2 separate regions of the Homo sapiens genome follow, and region 1 is linked to region 2. The links come from fine-mapping of genetic effects on gene expression. A gene starts in region 2. The other region holds a variant in brackets. All regions are shown on one strand. Distances are from middle to middle.

Region 1 (2,918 bases), 62 kb before region 2:
AGAGAACATATTAGTTTTAATTTTAATCAAACCACACAGCATGAGCTTCTAGCTTTCTCACTCTCTTTTCTAATAAAAGGCATCGATAGTCTTGGCAGCATATTAGAAGGGCAAAATTTAAATTTCTATTTACTTATTTCCTTATTATCACCACAAGTTTTCATTGAACTTTGTACTCTTTGAAGCAGATACTCAAGTGAAAGGAATATGTGTGTGATGGTGGGGGAGGGGGAGAGGAGGAGGAGGTTGGTTTAAATGAAACACATGTGAGCAGGAGGCTTGAGGTCTGCAGCTGACACAGCTATCACACCCCAGAGGTGAGTCTGACACTAACCAGGACTTTAAGATGACACATTGTGAGACTGGACATACCACGCAAACATGCATTCCATTTTCTTCATGTTATTTTCATTTCCCCCCGCCAAAATTAAGAAATAATAAAATAATTTCTAATTGCAAATAACTATTTTAGACAGAAGCTAGATACAGTAAGTTGGGATGTTACTATATGATCAAAGAGTCCTGGTTGCATCACTGGATTAACCTACCTAGCAGCTAAGCATGTTTTCTAGAAGGCACTAGGAAGTCCAAAAACATATATATAGAGAGAGATTTTAAAGAAAGTATCAAAGTAACCATTATCAGAAACATAATTTTTCTGTTATACTTCCTTTATGGTTTAGTGTTATTTTGAGTTACACTTTAAACACTAGGTTACATTGGCTTAAAGAATCTGTCAGCCTCTTGCACTTCTAAGTACTTATTGCAATCCTGTCTGAAAATATAATACTGAAGAACAAACAACTTTGGAGGTGATCTCCTCATTGGACACCATGTTGTGGGGAAAATGACCATTTGAACGCCTCAATACCTTCTTTTGTCTGCTCTCAGCAGCAGCCAGCTGTGCGGACATCCTTTCTTGCATTTTCTTGCAGTGGGCCATGACTGCTTCAAGGATGGAGAGGGGGTTGGTACAAACTGGCTTCTTCTCTTTGTCACCAGCACCTGCTTCATAGTCTCTCTGGAGTGCCAGGAACGGGTCATTTAGATTAAATCTCCCATACCGTTCCTGGATAAATACCTCCTTCCTGCGAGCCTGGAACAAAATTAGAGAAATGTATTGAAGAAAGAAATGAAAATATACAGAAAGATATTTATAAGAAGGTTTTGTGATTA[T/C]ACTTCCAAATGGTATTCTCAACTGCTGTGAGTAATGGCTTATGATGTCAGTGGTGAGTGAGAGGCAAATGTGACCCCCAGTCTCCACTAGCCTGGAATGCCATTCCATCTGCTTTCAAATTTTCTTCAAGAATATTGAATTTTACATTACAAATGATGCAAATATAGTTATTTCCTATGGTGCCCTACTCCTCAAGGATCAGAATTTAAGCAGCAGTCTTTTTTTACACCCCCACCCCTCCACCCCGCCCAACAGGGTCTTGCTCTGTCATCCAGGCTGGAATGCAGTGGCACAATCACAGCTCACTGCAGTCTCAACCTCCTGGGCTCAAACAATCCTCCTGCCTCAGCCTGTCTTATAGCTGGAACTATAGGTGCATGCCACCACACCCAGCTAATTTTTTTGATTTTTTAATTAAGATGGGATCTCACTTTGTTGTCCAGGCTGGTCTCAAACTCCTGGGCTCAAGTAATCCCCCAGCCTTGGCCTCCCAAAGTGCTGGGAGCCACCATGCCCCACCTAGTCTTTTCTAATTTAATGTAAAATCAGAAATATTGACAATTAAAATAATTTTTAGCTAAAGTTCAAAAATAAAATTATCTCTATATCGATAGAACTTACATTTAAAATAATATCAGGTTAAATCACGCATACAAAAAATCCCCTATAGGTTTTTTATAGCCAGAAGGAAATCACATGGATGTCTGGTAAGAAGAAAATTCTTTGTGAAATTTTTAATGTAAAAATTTTAATTAAATTAAAATTTTAATTAAATTAAAATTTTAATGTAAAAATTTTAATTAAATTAAAATTTTAATGTAAAAATTTTAATTAAATTAAAATTTTAATGTAAAAATTTTAATTAAAAAAATTAAAATTTTTAATGTAAAAATAAATAACAATATTCGTAGTTTGTAAAATTTGACCAACTACAACAGCCTTCAAAAAACTTTAAAAGGCATCTATCTCTTTCTCACTGAAGGGCATTAAAATATAGTTCACAGAATCCCAGGAAAGTATGCAACTTAATTATACTCTAAATGTCAGTCCATCAGCGACAAAGTTAATTTCACACCCACGCAATGAGGACCAAATGCAATTTTCTATAATTAGCCTACAAAGTCATTGCATAAAAATGGAAAATAGCAGTAGAAATGTATTAAAAGCTAGCAACATTTTCCTAATTCAGGTCATTTTGGAATAGCCACTAGAATGAAAAAAAATCTATGTCACTGCCAGTAAAAAAATTAAGTTATAATAAATCAAGCTTATTTGTCCAAAACATTAAACATGTCTTCTGAAGAAATATTATTAATGCATACAGTTCCATACTTTAAAGGGAACTGAATTGGAAAACTACACTTTTCCATTTTAGGCCACTATCAGCAAGCCAACAACTAGATAAACACAAATCTAATGACAAATGGGAAAAATCTAACATTTCTTTCCTTATCATCAACTTAGATTAATAAATAAAATTTACAAAAAGTCCAGTTTCACAATTAAATTTAAGCTAGCTTTCAGAAGACCACTTTAAACTTAAAAGGTAAGGTTTATGAGCTAAAAGCACTCGGTGTTTCTAGATTCTTTAAATTCAATCATGTAATCAATACACTGAATAAGTATCACTTGAGAGATGCAATTTCAAAAGCAATTTCATTTTGCCCTTCACATTTTTCTTAATATTTATTCAGTGTAGCAGTTCTTCTCCCACCCTTGGATTAACACTTGGATAATTCTA
Region 2 (2,918 bases):
TCCCACCCCATCCTTCGGCGGGAGCAGCCAGATCTGGCCAAGAGTGGGAGGCGCTCCCAGATCTGCCTTTCTCTGCAGCTCCTTGCAGCTCCTGCGAAGCTGCTTCCCAAACACCGAGAACCTTTTCCACCCAGGAAATGTGGGTCCAGCCCTTCCCCAAAGTAGAGGCTGGAAACCACCAGCGAGTCTCTACACCGGAATATTAAGGGGGTGAAAGTAAGGACCAGTCAAGAATGGTAGCGCATTCGGCCTCTAGACTCCAGAGAAGGAGAACAATGTCTTGAAACCAGGTGCAGAACCTCCACCTCTCCTGAGCATCGTCTCGGGAAGAACCAATCCATCCACCCCACCCCAATCACTACCACCAAGTAATGGGGCAGCAGGCTGCTAGGACCTAAAGCGCTGGCCTCAGCGGCAGCAGCGCCCACATCTGGACACGGCCCTCTCCCAGTGGGCCTCCCGAAGGCACAGGACCAGATGCACACAATGGGCATCCCCACACCTGCTGGGCGATGGCCCACCTCCCCCAAGCTGCTCTCCCGGGTCCGCTGAGCGGTACCAGGCACCCCCGAGACACGCGCTGGCAACCACGCGCGCAGCGAGAGGTGAACAATGGGGGGTCAAATTCGCCAGGAAACACGTCCCAGCCTTCTCCCCCGGCCAGAAGCGACCGCAGCGGAGGGAGTGGGCATAGGGGTCGCACTGGACGCAGACAGGGAGCTGGGAGAACCGGGCGACCCGGGGCCGCTTCCCGTGGGGCGCGGAAGGGACAGGAGGGATCCCCAGCCAGGGTGGCCGCTCCGCTCCCCCCCGCGGCCTCCGCCGTGTGGGCATCCCGAGGAAGGGGGGCCCCGATGAAGGGGCACCGGAGAGTCCCGGGCTTACGGAACGCCCCGGGGGTGCGAAGTCGGGTCCGGCTGGGACCCCGGCGCCGCCCCCGGCCCGCGTCTACACTAGCCCCGCGCCCGCCCCGGGAACTCGGTTACCGCCGCCTCCGCCGCGGCCCCCGCCGCGTCCTCCGGGGCCCGGGACAAGTCGGGCTCGCAGCTCGCGCCGTCCGTCGCCATCTTCCTGCTCTAGCGGATCCGAATGCGAGCTCGGAGCCGCGGCTCCGGACTCAGCCGTCTCCGCGCGGGCGGCACTTAACCCGCTGCTGTCCGGGACGCGGGCGCCTGGAGCCGGGAGCCGGGAGCCGCGGCACTCCCTCCGCCCCTCGCCACCGCCCTCGCCGCTTAACCCGCTGCGCGCCGGAGCGCCCCGCCTCGGTCCCGCCCCGCGCCCCGCGTCCCGCGCCCGGTGGCGCCAGCCGCGGGCTCGTGGAGGTGCGAGAAATGGGCGCACGACCTGGCTCCGCTGCGGCCCTGCGCGGGGACTGGGGATCAAAGACCACGGAAGAGGTGAAGGCAGAAAGCGCCCGAGGAGCGTTGCATTCCGCAGAACCCCAACCAAGCCGGAGAAATCCGTGCACAGACCAGATTAAATGTCAGGCCTCCTGAATCTGAATTCTCTGAAAGATCAGGGAAAATCCTACACTTCAGCTCCCTCTATCCCACCGCGAGGAATCACACAGGGCACCCCTTTCTTCTTAAATTGCTCTTTCTTAAATTTCATTGCCGCCAGGGTGTTTTTATCCTCCCTATATATATACACACCTGGCTCTGATTTATTCTATCGTTGACTCTAGTGTTTCTCCAAAAACAATTCTCAGATGAAAACGATTTGTCTGTCCTGTTTTCTTTTAGAACGTGGCACCAGCCCCTCAGCTCCTAACTTTCTATACAATCTCCTTTTCAGGGAATGTGTAGCGGGCTGTTTTATATTCTGTGACCCCCCTAAGTCTGAGATCTCTCCTGAAGGACTAACTGAGAAGTGTTAAATGTCATAGCTTTAAAAGCTAAATGTCATGTCCTCTACTTTTGAGAGAATTTAAAAAAATTACTCCCTACGTGTGAGGACACGTGTACATATACACCAAAAACAATCAAACAAAAGCCGTATTTGTAAAAATAGATTTTATGGGAATTACACGTCTCAGAAGATTTTTCATGAGATGAGTGAATTAGGCCCAAACGCTTAATCTTCCCTTTCCACATCTAATTCAGTTCCTACCCTTTGCTGCCAATTTCCAGAATGTGAAAATCTATCACCTCACCAAGACCATATGGTACAGCCCTTCCCAAATCACCAGATCCCTAAAAATGTGTCGAATGCATAAAATCAAATTGAGACATTCAAGCTGTGTCTCAAAGACGTAAAATCAAACCACAACCAAATCTTGCACTTGAAATTTTGGAAGATGAATGACTAGAATGTTCAGTCCAAGGGTTACAGATCAAAGCTTTTTTTTTTTTTTTCCTTTTTTCTTTCTTTCTTTCTTTCTTCTTTTTTTAATGGCAGGCTCCTAATGAAAGGTTTTGACTCTTTAATTGCTCCACTTTCCAAATTAGACCCAAATATGACACAAACCAGGGCAGAGAAAATCTTTTCTGCAAAGACCCTGAAAGGGATTGATTAATAAACTGTGAAAAGTTCCCTCCCAGAAGAGAGGTCAAGAAAGAACTTTACCTAGAACTCTGGGGCTAAAAGTCAGAGGCTTAGAAATCATCTCCAGGTTATCCTGTGAGTACAGGTACTTATTTATTTATTTATTTATTTATTTATATTGGCTCTGATAGTTACTCCCTCACTTATCCCTTTAATATCCATCCCTGTTCATTATACCACTTTCCTTTATTAAGTATACTCTCTAAAACTGCTCAATATTAGAATAACTAGATTTCTTTAAGATTAAAGAAAACCACTGGACAGTAAAAGTTAGATGTCAAACTGATAGTAAAAATTTAAAGTCCAAGGGCATTCCTTGTTCTTTTCAAAATGCACTTCCACACATTGCAAGGCAATCAATTTTCTTGATTCTG

Direction of the effects. Positions count from the first base shown, and alleles are read on the strand shown. Sizes are in standard deviations (SD) of each study's normalised expression.
For the expression in fibroblasts of the gene that starts at base 1,093 in region 2, allele T in region 1 goes with a lower level than allele C (small effect, 0.38 SD a copy in GTEx).

What was found.
Region 1: its variant is fine-mapped to the expression of CTTNBP2 in fibroblasts (GTEx, PIP above 0.99).

Annotation. Positions count from the first base shown.
Region 1 is chr7:117,809,894-117,812,811 of GRCh38, forward strand. It overlaps CTTNBP2 (cortactin binding protein 2), which reads right to left. Exons shown (of 23, transcript NM_033427.3): 3 at 872-1,096. Among named protein-coding and RNA genes, the nearest start is that of CTTNBP2, 62 kb to the right of the region's middle. RefSeq lists enhancers at 21-769, 770-1,516. The variant T/C (reference allele first, on the strand shown) is at 1,177.
Region 2 is chr7:117,872,349-117,875,266 of GRCh38, forward strand. CTTNBP2 (cortactin binding protein 2) reads right to left here and starts at 1,093. Exons shown (of 23, transcript NM_033427.3): 1 at 987-1,093. The coding sequence starts at 1,067.